Linked DNA regions of Homo sapiens: region 2 is linked to region 1. A link means that fine-mapping ties the variant in region 1 to the expression of a gene that starts in the linked region. Tissue or cell type: whole blood. Region 1 holds a variant in brackets; the other region holds the start of a gene. All regions are shown on one strand. Distances are between the middles of the regions.

Region 1 (8,135 bases):
TCTTTATGGGGAAAAAAATCTTAGGACTAGTTGTTTTAGGAATTTCAGATAATGTCCATCAGGCCTGAGTTACTATACTATAGATGCTACGTGGATAGAGATTTCAGAGAAAGCTGTGAGTCAAGGAACATTCACTGAAGTTGAAGAAAAGAGCTCAAAGTGAAGTCTACCTGGGGAAAATGTACCATAATCAGAGGTACAGATGCAGAGAAAAATTTCAGAAGAGCGTGTGAGGAAGAATCTAGCTCAGATGGAGTTAATAATGACTCTTGAGCACAAATCTAGCTCAAATGGAGTTAATAATGACTCTTGAGCATAGAAAAATAAGTGGAGAGATAAGATGTTCCCATACCATGAGATTCTTCAACAAAAACGGAGATTAAATATCACACAGCAGGTAATGGAGACTTAAACCCACCTGACTATGTGATGGTATGAGAGAGAAGCTTTAGAGAAGTTAAACATCAAATGTACCAGAAAGATGCACTGGGAACTGACTTGAAAATCCTTAGTTTGTACAGAGGAAGGTAAGAAGCAAAATCTCCTTACTATGTTTAAGGTATTAGGGTTTTGTGTGTGTGTGTTTTTGTTTTTAGAGACAGGGTCTCACTCTGTTGCCTAGCACATCCATGGCACACTGCAGCTTCCAGCTCCTTGGGTCAAGCAATCCTCCCACCTCAGCCTCCCAGGTAGCTGGCACTAGAGGTGCACACCACCATATTTGGCTGAATTATTATTATTATTGTTAGGTATTATTAGTAGTAGTAGATATGGGGTCTTGCTTTGTTGCCCAGGTTGGTCTCAAACTCCTGGCCTTAAGTGACTGTCGTGCCCTGCCCTCTCCCCAACCTCCACAGCATGAGGATTACAGTATGAGCTACTGCGCCCAGCCTAGATTTTCACTCTGTATCAGTGGGTTCATCTTCTACTCTCTGTGGTTTTAAAATAGAAATATATCAAATTAGAGGAAGAGAAGAAAAATAATAAATTAAAAGTTTGAAGTTTAAATAAACTCAAAGGCAATCAGTGTTATCTAAAAGAAGAAAAAAATTATGAATTCATAAAGAGAGCCTTAACTAAGAAAGTGGGGTTGTAAATGGCCACCAATCTATGCCACTGAATAAGAGGGATACATTTCATCATAAACTCCATGGAGAAAAGACACATCCCGATGTGGAGACCAGGTTATGGAGCACATCCATTAAAACTCATGTCACCAATCTTGAGTCAACTCTAAAGATTCAGGAACTTTAAACACAGTTTTATAAACAACACTTTAAAAGTGCCCACCTGTCATCAAAAACCTGAGATAAAATGTTCACTGTATCTCATAAACCTGATTATTCCTCACCTGAAAAGTTCTGATTTAGGATTTCTTGACCTATTATCCATGGATCTTGTTGTTCCAGTTTGAACATTGCATCAGGTTTGAGAATTTGAAAACCTGTCGATTGGAAACACAGAGGACTTGGACCTAACTGCCTGGGCTAAGAGTCTTAAATATGTAGAATGTTTTATTATAAAGGCTGCAAAATAAAGCAAGTGAATGAAAATCTTTCAATTCAGTATAAAAGTCAAATAATCTTTGACATGTAAAACTTACATCCAAAATAAACAAACACCTCACAGGCCAGTTACTGGCCATACACTAAGTTACATAAGAATGTTCTTACCCAAGAAAACCAGATTGCTATAGTTCTCCAACATCACATCTCTGTACAAGTTCTTCTGAGTAGGATTAAGTAGCTGCCATTCCTCCAGCGTGAAATCCACAGCCACATCCTCAAATGATATCTGGAAAAGCATAATCCCTGTTAAACCTGAAGTGGTTCTCATTTGGTCTTGTAAAATACTTTCTTCTGTATTTGTGGTAGGTGGCCTCTAAGATGGCCCCAGTGACCTCTGACTCCGGTATTCATGCTTTTGCATAATCCTCCCCTCTTGACCGTGGGCTGGACTCACTGACTCATTGTCCTGAACAGAACAGGGAAACATGATGAGATGCCACTTCCAAGACTAGGTTAGAAAGAAATGCAACTTCTATCCTGGGCACTCTCTCTCTCTGGAGGAGTCTGGCTGCTGTGTTGTAAGGCCGCCATGTGGAAGCTCATGTGCCGTGGAACTGAGGCTTCCCAACAGCCACTGAGTGAGCCTGGAGGAGCCAGCTCCTTCCTCGCTGCAGCCCTTCTCAACACCTTCATCACTGCATCATGTGAGACCCTCAACCAGAACCAACTGGGCAAGTACCTGGCAGATTCCAAAACCCAGAAACAGATCAATGTTTGTTGTTTTCAGCCCTTGAGGTTTGGGGTAATTTGTGACACAATAATGAATAACCAATATAATCTAATATAATAAATATAATAATCTTGCATTATGCCTTGAGGAAGGAATGTTTTAAAAATATTTATCATTGTGAATTCATTCATCCATGTACCTATCCACTGAACAAGAAACCAGAATAGGTTGTCTTTAAACAATACAGTGGTTCTCAAAGAAGGTGCCACTAGTATTTGAGAACCATTCTTAGGTAAGGAATACTGTTCCATGCAGTTGAGCCCTTCAGCATGCCTGGCCTCTGTCTGCTAATGACAGTAATATCTCTCAGTCACTGGCTGGGCACGGTGGCTTATGCCTGTAATCCCAGCACTTTGGGAGGCTGAGGTGGGCGGATCACCTGAGGTCAGGAATTCAAGACCAGCCTGGCCAACATGGTGAAACCCCAACTCTATTAAACACACACACACACACATGCACACACACACAAATTAGCTGGGGGTGGTGGTGGGCACCTGCAATCCCAGCTACCAGGGAGGCTGAGGCAGGAGAATCACTTGAACCTGGGAGGTGGAGGTTGCAGTGAGCCAAGATCGTGCACCTGCATGCAGCCTGGGCAACAGAGCAAGACTCTGTCTCAAATAAATAAATAAATAAATAAACAACAACAAAAACAAAAACACTCTCTTTCCTCTGGGAGTGATTCTGCTCCCAAGTAAGAACTGGCCAGCTATTTTAGGTATCTTCCAAAACACACATATTGAGCAATTAAGATTCCAGGAACCATCTGGGTGTGGTGGCTCACACCTGAAATCTCAGCACTTTGGGAGGCCAAGGCAGGTGGATCACCTGAGGTCAGGAGTTGGAGACCAGCCTGGCCAGCACTGTAAAACCCCATCTCTACCAAAAATACAAAAATTAGCCAAGTGTGGTGGTGTGTGCCTGTAATCCCAGCTACTCGGGAGGCTGAGACAGGAGAATAGCTTGAACCCAGAAGGTAGAGGTTGCAGTGAGCTGAGATTGTGCCGCTGCACTCCAGCCTGGTGACAGAGCAAGATTCC[G/A]TCTAAAAAAAAAAAAAAAAAAAGATTCCAGGAACCATAACAGGTACTAGAAATTTAAAAATGAGTAGAAAAAAATCACATTCTCAAGTACCTTTCAGGCCAGAGTGAATAAGGTTACAGGGCTATGAAGCTAGCATTTACAGAATATAGAGACAAAACGGGGATAAAAACACTGGATTTAACAACACTGGGTTAGGTGCTGTAAAGACAGTAAGGCTTAGAAAGGGTCTTTAGAAAGTCCTGGTTACAGAGGGGGATGAGGAAAAGGACACTCTCAAGGCAGCAGCATGAGCAAAGACATGGAAATAAAGTGTGTTTTCTGAGGGATGAAAGTTCAGGAATATAAGAGAGGGAGTGGGAGCGGTGGGAATGGTCCTGGCCTCTTTAAAAGGGAACGTGGAAACCTAGAGAGGTAAGCAGAGGCCAGCCTTCAGCTGGACTCAAGTAAATTTGAGCATTCCAGTCCCAGCAGCTACAAGGGACACAGGAAAAAGGAGGAAAGCTTAGAATAAGCCCAAGCATAGGGGACTAATAGGTTATTTTCCCTCATAAAGCTGGAACACAAGGAGTACTCCGTGTGTGGGTCAATGAAAAAAAAATCAAAGAAAATCAATTTCTTGCCTCAAATGTTAGTGTTACACAAAGAGGTCAAAAATTGTCCCTGAGAATTATAACAAGCTGGATTTATATGGGTGTGTGGGCTCAACTCCAGTATAGATGTGTTTTGCAAAAACCTTAAGCACAGAGAGTTCTAAAGTGTTTTTGAGGGGGCCATGCATTCAGGCATCCGGCAGAATCAAATGCAAATTCTATTTAGAGAAAGAGATCAAAATAATTCTCACAAATAAAGATTCAAGAAAAATGAGTACAGAGTAAAAGAGAAACCGGAATGCACACATAAAAAAAAAATCATCCAGGTGCGGTGGCTCACGCCTGTAACCCCAGCACTTTGGGAGGCCGAGGCAGGTGGATCACGAGGTAAGGAGATCGAGACCATCCTGGCTAACATGGTGAAACCCCATCTCTACTAAAAATACAAAAAAATTAGCCGGGCATGGTGGTGGGCGCCTGTAGTCCCAGCTACTCGGGAGGCTGAGGCAGGAGAATGGCGTGAACCCGGGAGGCGGAGGTTGCAATGAGCAGAGATCGTACCACTGGACTCCAGCCTGGGTGACAGAGTGAGACTCTGTCTTAAAAAAAAAAAAAAAAAAATTAGCCGGGCGTGGTGGTGGGTGCCTGTAGTCCCAGCTACTCGGGAGGCTGAGGCAGGAGAATGGCGTGAACCCAGGAGGTGGAGCTTGCAGTGAGCCGAGATGGCGCTACTGCACTCCAGCCTGGGCGACAGAGCAAGACTCCATCTCAAAAAAAACCAAAAAAAAACAAACAGGAGTGGTATAAAAGACTTAGGATATTTGAACTGTCAGCACAGAATATAAAATAAATATATTTAATATATTCAAAGAAATGAGAGGTTAATGAAAGTACGAAAAATAATCAGAAGACTATAAAAATGAATAAGCAGATTTGAAAAAAATGAAATATAACTTCTAGAGATAAAATGCATAATAAGTAAAGTTAAGAAGTCAATGGAAGGGCTTAAGAGTAGATTAGGAAAAGATAAAGAGAGAATAAGTGAATTGGAAGATAGACCAGAAGAAATAATAAAGCAAAAGCTCAGAAATGGAAAATATAAAGCAACCCCAGCTACATGCTGCCTACGAAAGAGGCACATTTATATTCAAAATAGTTTAAACATAAAAGGACTCACATTACTTGATTTCAAGACTTCCTATGCAACCACAGTAATTAAGGCAGGATGGCATTTGTGAAAGGATAAAAACACAAGTTAATGGAACAGAACACAGAACTCAAAAATAAGCCCCTACAAATATACTCAATTGTTTCACAAAAGTACAAAAAGCAATTCTACAGTCTTTGTGACAAATAATGTCTCAACAATTTTATACTCATAAGCAAAAGGGATCTCAACACATACCTCACACCTTATATCAAAACTAACTCAAAATGGATCACAGACCTAAACATAAAAAACTATAAAACTTTTAGAAGAAAACCAAAGAAAACCTGTGTGACTTTGGGTTTGGCAATGAGTTAGATACAACACCAAAAGCCTGATCAATTTAAGAAAAAAATTTGATAAATTGGACTTTTTCAAAATTAAGAACTTTTGCTCTGTGAAAGACAATGTTAAGAGAAAGAGAAGGCACGGCACAGACTAAGAGAAAATTATTTGCAAATTACATACTTGCTAAAGCACTCATATCCAGGATATAAAGAACTCTTACTAAGAAAATAACCTCATTTTAAAAATTAACAAGATATCTTGACATTTCACCAAAGAAAATATATGGAAGGTGGCTGGGCGCGGTGGCTCACGCCTGTAATCCCAGCATTTTGGGAGGCCGAGGCAGGCGGATCACCTGAGGTCAGGAGTTCAAGACCAGCCTGGCCAACATGGTGAAACCCCATTTCTACTAAAAATACAAAAATTAGCCAGGCATGGTGACACGCACCTGTAATCCTACCTACTGGGAAGGCTAAGGGAGGATAATTGCTTGAACCCAGGAGGCAGAGGTTGCAGTGAGCCGAGATGGTGCCATTGCACTCCAGCCTGGGCGACAAGAATGAAACTCTGTCTCAAAAAAAAAAAAAAAAAAAAAGAAAATGTATGGATGGAAAGTAAATATATGAAAAGATGTTCAATATATCTGTCAAAAGGTGAATGCAAATTAAAACTATAATGAAAAACTACTATGTACTTATTAGAAGGCTAAAACTAAACACACACACACACAGACACACACACACACACACACCCCTGACAAATATCTGTGAGGACTCAGAGCAAGAGCAACTGTCATTCATTGTGGTGGGAATGTAAAATGTACAGCAGCTTTTGAAAACATTTTGGCAGTTTCTTATAAAGTTGAACACAGACTTACCACACAACGCAGCAATTCCACTCCTAGGTGTTTACTCAAGTAGTGAACTGAAAACTTACATTCACCTGAAAATTTATATTCAAACCTATATGCAGATGAATGCTTTATTCAAAACTGCTAAAAAGTGGAACAATTAAGATGTCCTTCAATAAGTGAATGGATAGAGACTGTGGCCCATCCATACATGGGATCATATTCAAGGGAATCACACGCCAAGAAAAAGGAAGAAACTACCGATAAGATATGAATGAATCTCAAAGGTATGCTAAGTGAGAAAAGCCACTGTCAAAAGGTCACATATGTGATCCCATTTATTTATTTATTTATTATTTATTTGAGAGGGAGTCTCGCTCTGTCGCCCAGGCTGGAGTGCAGTGGCGCGATCTCGGCTCATGGCAAGCCCCGCCTCCTGGGTTCACGCCATTCTCCTGCCTCAGCCTCCCAAGTAGCTGGGACTACAGGCGCCTGCCACTACGCCCGGCTAACTTTTTGTATTTTTAGTAGAGACGGGGTTTCACCCTGTTAGCCTGGATGATCTCAATCTCCTGACCTTGTGATCCACCTGCCTCGGCCTCCCAAAGTGCTGGGATTACAGGCAAGAGCCACTGTGCCAGGCCGATCCCATTTATTTTTTTATTTTTATTTTTTATTTTTTTGAGACAGAATCTCACTCTGTTGCCCAGGCTGGGGTGAAGTGGCACGATCTCGACTCACTGCAACCTCTGCCTCCTGGGTTCTAGCGATTCTCCTGCCTCAGCCTCCCGAGTAGCTGGGATTACAGGCACACGCCACCACACCCTGCTAATTTTTGTATTTTTAGTAGTGACGGGGTTTCTACATGTTGGTCAGGCTGGTCTCGAACTCCCGACCTCAGGTGATTTGCCCGCCTCAGCCTCCCGAAGTGCTGGTGAGAGGTGACAGCGTGCTGGCAGTCCTCAGAGCCCTCGCTTGTTCTCGGCACCTCCCCTGCCTGGGCTCCCACTTTGGTGGCATTTGAGGAGCCCTTCAGTCCCCCACTGCACTGTGGGAGCCCCTTTCTGGGCTGGCCAAGGCTGGAGCCCACTCCCTCAGCTTGCAGGGAGGTGTGGAGGGAGAGGCACGAGCGGGAACCGGGGCTGTGTGCGGCGCTTGCGGGCCAGCTGGAGTTCCGGGTGGGCGTGGGCTTGGTGGGCGCCGCACTCGGAGCAGCCAGCCAGCCCTGCTGGCCCCGGGCAATGGGGGACTTAGCACCCGGGCCAGTGGCTGCGGAGGGTGTACTGGGTCCCCCAGCAGTGCTGGCCCACCGGCGCTGCGCTCGATTTCTCACCGAGCCTTAGCTGCCTCCCCGCGGGGCAGGGCTGGGCACCTGCAGCCCACCATGCCTGAGCCTCCCACCCACTCCATGGGCTCCCATGCGGCCCCAGCCTCCCTGACGAGCACCACCCCCTGCTCCACGGCGCCCAGTCCCATCGACCACCCAAGGGCTGAGGAATGCGAGCGCACAGCGCAGGACTGGCAGGCAGCTCCACCTGCAGCCCCGGTGCGGGATCCACTAGGTGAAGCCAGCTGGGCTCCTGAGTCTGGTGGGGACGTGGAGAGTCTTTATATCTAGCTCAGGGATTGTAAATACACCAATCAGCACCCTGTGTTTAGCTCAAGGTTTGTGAGTGCACCAATCAACACTCTGTATCTAGCTGCTGGTGAGGACATGGAGAACCTTTATGTCTAGCTCAAGGATTGTAAATACACCAATCGGCACTCTGTATCTAGCTCAAGGTTTGTAAACACACCAATCAGCACCCTGTGTTTTGCTCAAGGTTTGTGAATGCACCAATTGACACTCTGTATCTAGCTG
Region 2 (8,135 bases), 21 kb after region 1:
GAAGACCTTAAGGCCAACGGGGTCACTGAGAACTTTTAAAAAAGGAAATAATCACGTAAAAAGAGTGATCACTGATCAGCGGTCACAAGCTACAAGGAGAGGGCCAAAGGGCAAAAAGACCTGTCACTCACGAGAGGCTTGCCTGAGCCAACCCACGACCCATTCACATTCGGATCTGCTTCCAGACCCACCAACACGGCCCTGCCAAGTTCCCCGGATTACCAAGTCCCAGAGAGGGCCTCCATCACACACACACCCCAGACACAAACCACTGAACTCCGCAGCTCCAAGCCCCTGCCAACCTCCAGCATCCCAAGTCCCCCAGTCACTCACAGTGACCACCTGAGAATTCTCCAGGTCCACATCCCAAGACATCCCCAGATCACTGAATCCAATAGGCCTGCTTCACAGACCTCCAGACCACACAACCACCGAACCCCATCAACCCCACTCTCACTCACCCCATGTGCCCCCATCACTCCCACAGGACCACAATGGCTGACTTCACAGGCCACCCAGTCTCTCTCCCCAAGAGGCCGCCCCTCCAGGGCCTTCAGAGACACACACTATGGGTTCCCCAGTGACCATCCAACAAAGACCCCAGGCGGTAACTCTAGTGGCCCCACAACAGCCTCCAGAAACACCTGACCACAGACTCCACAGACTGGCACAGTATAGACCACTAATCACAGATACCCAAAGGCCACTAACTTATTATTATCTTTTTTAAGATGGAGTCTCACTCTGTCATCAGGCTGGAGTGCAGTGGCAAAATCTCGGTTCACTGCAACCTCTGCCTCCTGGGTTCAAGCAATTCTCCTGCCTCAGCCTCCTGAGTAGGTGGGATTACAGGCGCCCACCACCATGCCCAGCTAATTTTTGTATTTTTAGTAGAGACGGGGTTTCACCATGTTGGCCAGGATGGTGTGGATCTCTTGACCTCCTGATCTGCCTGCCTCAGCCTCCCAAAGTGCTGGGATTACAGGTGTGAGCCACGGTGCCCAGCTAAGGCCACTAACTTCTAACTCCACATTCACCGCAAATGGCAAACAAACTCTTAGGCTCCCCAGGCTTCCCTCTCACTGACACCCACAGGGTCCCCAATTTCTCACCCTCACCCACCCGCACACCCATCACAGACACTTGCACGCATACTTGGCATTGATCCCAAGCCCTCCGATCATTCCTCCTCACAGACCTCACTGCCCACCCCATCAGTCATTCAGTCATCTCTGGTACCCGGTCACTAATACAAACAAGCTCCTTCTCACCTGGTTCCAACACCCTCAAATAACAAAGCCAATGCCAGGGCACGAGCCAATAAAACTGTCCCCCATTCAACGATGTACACTGGACCCTTTATTCCTAATCCTCCACAGGCCCCCAGACACTTACCATTCCTACGTCACACCATAGACCTCACAGGCCAGGCAGAGTTATCCCTACAGGCCCAACTGATGACTGGACCTCAGTGACTCCCACAGGGCTTTTAAATACAGATGCCAGACACCATAATCACCAGCACCCCCAAAGCCCCACTTAAGAATCACCACAGACTGAAACCCCAAACTCTGAGTCCCAAAGGATCCCCACAGAACTCAGATACTCCTGCAGATGAGCTGGGGAGGGGAGGAGAAGGGTGGGGAGCGGGGGAGAAGGGGCTTCAGTCACTCCTGCAGGTGAGGTGGGGAGGGGATGAGAAGGATGGGGGAGGAGAAGGGTAGGGAGGGGAGGAGAAGGGTGGGGAGGGGAGGAGAAGGGGCTTCTGTCCTGGGACGAACACACTGGTCTCCATTCACTCACTTCATCAGGTGCCCAAGTCAGGCGCTCACAGAGCCCCTCCCCTGTAACTGACATTCTGAGGCTTGCGCCACAGACCCCCTAAATTAGACCCCAGTCACTCAATGCCCAGGGATCCCTAATCCCTTATCCCCGGGGCCCCCAAGCATTCGCCCCCATGACACCCCATTCTCTAATCCACTCCATGCTGGAGCATTCACTGACATTCCCACAGGCCCTCCCAAACACCACCTGGAAAGGGATTGTGGGGCTCTGCACAAATGCCGATCCCGCAGGCCCCTCCAATGACGCCAAGTATGACCCCCGTTGTCCACGCACTCACAACTTGCAACAGGTCCACCATTAACTTACATCCAGACTCCCTTGTCACAAATACACAGCGCCATTCCTAATGCTTCCATCATAAGATCCCCAAACACAAGCACAGAAACAAACCCCAGCCACTCGCCAGCATAGGCCACCCCATACTCGCCTCCGCTATTGGAGACAGGGGTTGAAAGAGCAACCACTGTTATTCAGCTGTCAAATAAAACATACAACTGGACAGAGCAAAGAAAGACGGTTCCAAAGGGTTATTGGAAGTGGGGAAAAAAAGACGCGGAAGAGGGTTGGGAAGGGGAAGGAGAACGGGCTTCTGGGAAGAACCGTGAAGCCACGAGACTCACGTGCATCTCTGCAAGGCAAAAAGGGTTTTTCTTTCACAGAGAGGTGTGAACAAGGTTAGCAAAGACCAGGCCTGGCCAAGCGAGGTGGAAGTGCGGGCGACCAGACAGCAGAGCGGGGAAAGCTTGACCCTGAGCCAGCCTGTTCTCAGGCGAGGCTGCGTGTTGGCTCAGGCTGGGGATGGGCCAAAGCTCAAGAAAATGGGGAAAGGAAAGAAGCTTAGCTAAAGTTTGCTTAAGGAGCATTTTGCTCCGACCGCTCGGTGGAGTTCAGCCAGTCACCGATGAGGCAAGCGACGGCAACGTGGCAGGTCTGTGTGAACAAGGGGCATCCTGGAGGCTGACCAAAGTCATATAGGGAACGGGAGATCTTTGCAGTGAGCCATTTGCTGGAACCCAAAAGGGTGGGAAATTCCTCAACCTTCGCTGTTTTCCAGGAGCACAGGGCTCTGGTGAAATCCAACACTGTCACAGCCGGCAGGCTTTCCAGTGAATGGAACCCACACAAGCAAGCCCCTAAGCCCTCCAACGCAGGCCCCCGCAGAAGCCTCATCATTCACCCCGCTGGCCTCCAATGCTCACCCAAAGGCATCCAAATCATTCATCAGCAGAGTCCTAATCGCTGCAGACAAATCCTCCACACGGCCTCCCAGGGGCCCCTCTCCCCTGGGGCCAAGGGCAACCTCGCGTCCCCTTGCCCCGCCCGTGCTGCACCCCAAGTCTACAGCGACCTCCATAGGCCCCCAGTGAATCGCCCAGCTGACCCCAAATCTCCCCCGACACCCACATTCAGCGCCCCGCCGCCGCCCGCCCTACAGCCCCCACCCCACCCTCTGCCTCCCACCCCCGCGCGCCCCCAGAGCCCCCGCCTGAGGCCCGCCTTCCGCGCATGCGCCCAGGCCGGTCCGCAGGCCTTTCTCGCCCCAGCCGGCAGCCAGCTCGTTCGCGCTGGGGTCACCGCGAGCCGGTCCGCAGCGGGGTCACCGCGATCCCCGGCGCAGACACAGAGGCCGCCCCCAGCCCCGCCGCCTCGTGGTCCCGCCCCCGCTGCACGCTCCCTTACCCCTCGGACCTCGCAGGGCCGCGGCGGACACGGCCCGATCGGGGACGTGAACGCGCAGAACTACATTTCCCAGCGTCCCGCTCGCGCTGGAACTACACTTCCCGGGGGGCTCGGCGGTGCACCCGCCGGGGTCGCGGATTGGAGGTTTCCGGTTGGAAAAGCCCCTTGGCGGCTAACTGGGGAGGACTGGAAGAAATCTAGGATGGAGCCAGCACTGCTGGCCCAACATGTCTGTGAGAGAACCTAAAGGCGCCTCCAGGAGGAAGCGTCTGCATCTTTTCCTTGTTTTTTTTTTTTTTTTTTTTGGAGGCAGGGTCTCGCTCTGTCACCCAGTGGGGAGTGCAGTGGTGCCATGAACGCTCATTGCAGCCTCAGGCTGGTCTCCGACTCCTGGGTTCAAATGATCCTCCTGCCCCAGCCTCCCAAAATGCTGGAATTACAGGCATGAGTCACTGCGTCCGGCTGCTTTTCCATTTTTCATCGTAGCTGTAAGTAATATCGGTAAATGTTAGTGTTACGTGCGTCCGTATAGGAGACCACCTGAGCAGGCTAAGTGTGAGCAACACGCCTGTTTATTCACTTGGGTGCAAGTGGGCTGAGTCTGAGAAAGGAGTCAGCGGAGGGTGGTGGGCTTGTCATTGGTTCTTATAGCTTTGGGATAGGATAGGCGGTGGAGTCAGCAGCAATTTTTTTTTTTTTTTTTTTTTTTGAGACAGAGTCTCACTCTGTCGCCGAGGCTGGAGTGCAGTGGCGCGATCTCGGCTCACTGCAAGCTCCGCCTCCCGGGTTCACGCCATTCTCCTGCCTCATCCTCCTGAGTAGCTGGGACTACAGGCACCCGCCACCACGCCCGGCTAATTTTTTTGTATTTTTAGTAGAGACGGGGTTTCACTGTGTTAGCCAGGATGGTCTTGATCTCCTGACCTCGTGATCCGCCCTCCTCGGCCTCCCAAAGTGCTGGGATTACGGGCGTGAGCCACCGCGCCCGGCCTCAGCAGCAATTTTTTGCGGGCAGGGGAGGATGTTACAAAGTACATTCACAAGGGCGGGGAGGGTGTATTGTCACAAGGGCGGAGAGGAATGTTACAAAGTACATTCACAAGGACCGGGAATATTACAAAGTACATTATCACAAGGGTGGGGGAATGTCACGATGGCTTGACCATGGTGCGGCCAGCTCAGAGGACCTTACATTTAGTACATCCAATCCAGCAGTATTGACAAAAGGAATGAAAATAGATGATAGGGTTGGGCGCGGTGGCTCACGGCTGTAATCCCAGCACTTTGGGAGGCTGAGGTGGGCGGATCACCAGGTCAGGAGATTGAGACCATCCTGGCCAACACGGTGAAACCCCGTCTCTACTAAAAATACAGAACATTAGCTGGGCGTGGTGGTGGGCGCCTGTAATCCCATCTACTCGGGAGGCTGAGGCAGGAGAATCACTTGAACTCGGGAGGCGGGGGTTGCGGTGAGCCATCATGCCGCTGCACTCTAGCCTGGCAACAGAGTGAGACCTCATCTCAAGAAAAAAAAAAGGAAAAATAAATGAGATGAGGACATTACAGGGAAATAAAATATATTTATGGATATATAAAGCAGTGGCTTGTCCCTGTAGTCCCAACTACTGGAGGCTGAGGCAGGAGGATTGCCTGAGCCTGGGAGGTTGAGGCTGCAGTGAGCTATGATGGCAACACTGCACTCCAGCCTGGGCCACAGAGGGAGACACCTTCTCTTAAAAATATTTTTTGGCCAGGCCAGGCGCGGTGGCTCACACCTGTAATCCCAGCACTTTGGGAGGCTAAGGCGGGCGGATCACCTGAGGTCAGGAGTTCGAGACCAGCCTGACCAACATGGTGAAACCCCATCTGTACTAAAAATATAAAAATTAGCCAGGTGTGGTGGCTCATGCCTGTAATGGCTCATACCTGTAATCCCACCTACTCAGGAGGTGGAGGCATGAGAATTGCTTGAACCCAGGAGGCAGAGGTTGCAGTGAGCTGAGATCTCACCACTGCACTCCACCCTGGGAGACAGAGTGAGATTCTGTCTAAAAAAAAAAAAAAAGAAAAAGAAAAACTGTAAAAGCATATTAGTTTTTTAAAATAAAAATGGGGAGAAACAGGAAACACACTCACAATTGGCAATTTAAAAAATTGAAATGGCCATAAAGACCAAATTAAAGTATATATGAAATAATATTTTGCTCAATTCTATATTAGTAAATTTGGAGCCTGTGAGAGATGGAGTTTTGCTCTTGTCGCCCAGGCTGGAGTGCAGTGGCACAATATCGGCTCACTGCAGCCTCCGCCTCCTGAGTTCAAGTGATTCTCCTGCCTCAGCCTCCCGAGTAGCTGGGATTGCAGGCGTGCGCCACCACGCCCGGCTAATTTTTGTATTTTTAGTAGAGACGTGGTTTCACCATGTTGGTCAGGCTGATCTTGATCTCTTAACCTCGTGATCCGCCTGCCTCGGCCTCCCGAAGTGCTGGGATTACAGGCGTGAGCCACTGCGCCCAGCCACTCCCAGCTACTTTTTGTATTTTTAGTAGAGATGGGTTTCACCATGTTGGCAAGGCTGGTCTCAAACTCCTGACCTCTGGTGATCCATGCGTCTCGGACTCCCAAAGTGCTGGGATTACAGACCTGAGCCACCGTACCCAGCCCACATTGCCCTGCTTCTAACTGAGATTCAACTTTATTTAAGCAAACCAATTCCATGCTCAACAGAGCTAAAATTAAAATTCTGCTTTAAGGTAGTTTTGTTTTTGTTCTCAGAAAATTTTGCTGTTCACAGATTTATGATTTTCACTTTTCTCCGAGGTTAAGCGTGTCATTTATTAAATGACTTACTAGAATTTATACGCCTTTTTTTTTTTTTTTTTTTTGAGATGGAGTCTTGCTCTGTCACCCAGGCTGGAGTGCAGTGGCGCGATCTCAGTTCACTGCTACCTCTGCCTCCTGGGTTGAAGCAATTCTCCCGCCTCTGCCCCCCGAGTAGCTGGGATTACAGGCACCCACCATCATGCCTGGCTAATTTTTTGTATTTTTGTAGAGACGAGGCTTCACCATGTTGGCCAGGCTGGTGTCGAACTCATGACCTCAGGTGATCCGCCTGTCTTGGCCTCCCAAAGTGCTGGGATTACAGGCATGAGCCACTGAGCATGGCCATGGCCTTTTCTTTCATTCCAATTTTGGTCAGGAAAGAAAACAGTTTCTCTCTCTAAAAAAAAATTCCATGGCTTAAGTAAAACTTGTAAGTTTAAAAAAAAAAAAAACTGGCTAAACTCTTAAGTTCAGTTCATTTGGCACATCTGAAGTCCCATTTTAAATGACCAAAGCCAGTAAAAAAAACTTTGTATAAAGACAGAGATAAGTCTTAAAGATAAGACACTCTTTCTCCCAGCCACAAGATAATTTAGTGACTTAGGTTTTGTGAAACTTTAAGCTCATCGTTCATGACATACGTTGGACCCATAAGACTCCCCTCAACAAAAAAAATACAAAAATCTCCTAGTGCCCTAAGTGCCCAAAATTACTGGGTTTCACCAAGACATCTATTGAAAAGTGACTCTTCAATAAATAATCCTTATTAAGCAGCATACCAGATCCAACAACTCTTTCCCTTTCAGTCTTTGATCTTTAAAACAAAAACCCCAAATTATGGACATTCATCCATCTAAAACTGAGTCTTTCCCCTTCAAAAGAAATACACCTTTAATGGCTGGATGCAGTGCCTCACGCCGGTAATCTCAGTGCTTTGGGAGGCTGAGGTGGGTGGAGCACAAGGTCAGGAGTTCGAGACCAGCCTGTCCAACATGGTGAAACCCCGTCTCTACTAAAAATACAAAAATTAGCTGGGCATGGTGGCCGGCGCCTGTAATCCCAGCTACTTGGGAGTCTGAGGCAAGAGAATTGCTTGAAACAGAAAGGTGGAGGTTGCAGTGAGCTGAAATTGTGCCACCGTATTCCAGTCTGGGCAAAAGAGCGAAACTCCATCTCAAAAAAAAAAATATATATATACCTTTAAGTAACTCCAGCTAAATTCATATATAGTACTTATGATGCGACCTCCTGTCAATATCTTTTAAAATGGTCTTATTTAACCCATAAAGACCCCAAACTACAAAGACCAAAATGAAATGACATTAAAAATACCTTAATTAGTTTATTTACGTGCATAATTTTTAAAAACTGAGTCTAAAATTTTTAAAAAATTGAAAGTTACTTTCAATAATACTAAAAAGCATCTAAAAGAGACTGAAAATTTCTTTCCCTACAGAAAAAATTAAACTCTTTAGAACTATTGATATATTAAAAAAGGAAACTGCCAAAACTTCTCACCCTTCTGCTTCTGCATCTCTTTATCCCTCCTTCTCCAAACTGCCTTGCCAAGACTTGACTTCTTTTTTCCTCCTCCCCATACAATCACTTATCTTTTGTAAATTAATATGTATTAATGTGGAGTCCTAATTAGGGAAAAAGAGACAGGGTAGTGGGAGCAGGGGAAAGCAAAATACGAAATAAGAGAAAGCAGATAAGCTGTAAGTCTGCCTTTCTTAATGGTCCAGGACACAGAGCTGTCATAACTCACAATCTTCCTGTGGCCAGCT

The links. PIP is the estimated chance that this variant, and not a neighbour inherited with it, causes the effect.
Region 2: it holds the start of ZNF605, and the variant in region 1 is fine-mapped to the expression of ZNF605 in whole blood (INTERVAL, PIP above 0.99).

The regions. Positions count from the first base shown.
Region 1 is chr12:132,931,362-132,939,496 of GRCh38, forward strand. ZNF605 (zinc finger protein 605) reads right to left here. Exons shown (of 5, transcript NM_183238.4): 4 at 1,674-1,794. Among named protein-coding and RNA genes, the nearest start is that of ZNF605, 21 kb to the right of the region's middle. The variant G/A (reference allele first, on the strand shown) is at 3,339.
Region 2 is chr12:132,952,718-132,960,852 of GRCh38, forward strand. It overlaps ZNF605 (zinc finger protein 605), which reads right to left and starts at 3,589. Exons shown (of 5, transcript NM_183238.4): 1 at 3,526-3,589. LOC124903064 (a long non-coding RNA gene) reads left to right here and starts at 3,832. Exons shown (of 2, transcript XR_007063552.1): 1 at 3,832-4,013. RefSeq lists enhancers at 2,307-3,137, 2,566-2,860, 3,138-3,966, 3,720-3,799 and a silencer at 3,220-3,559.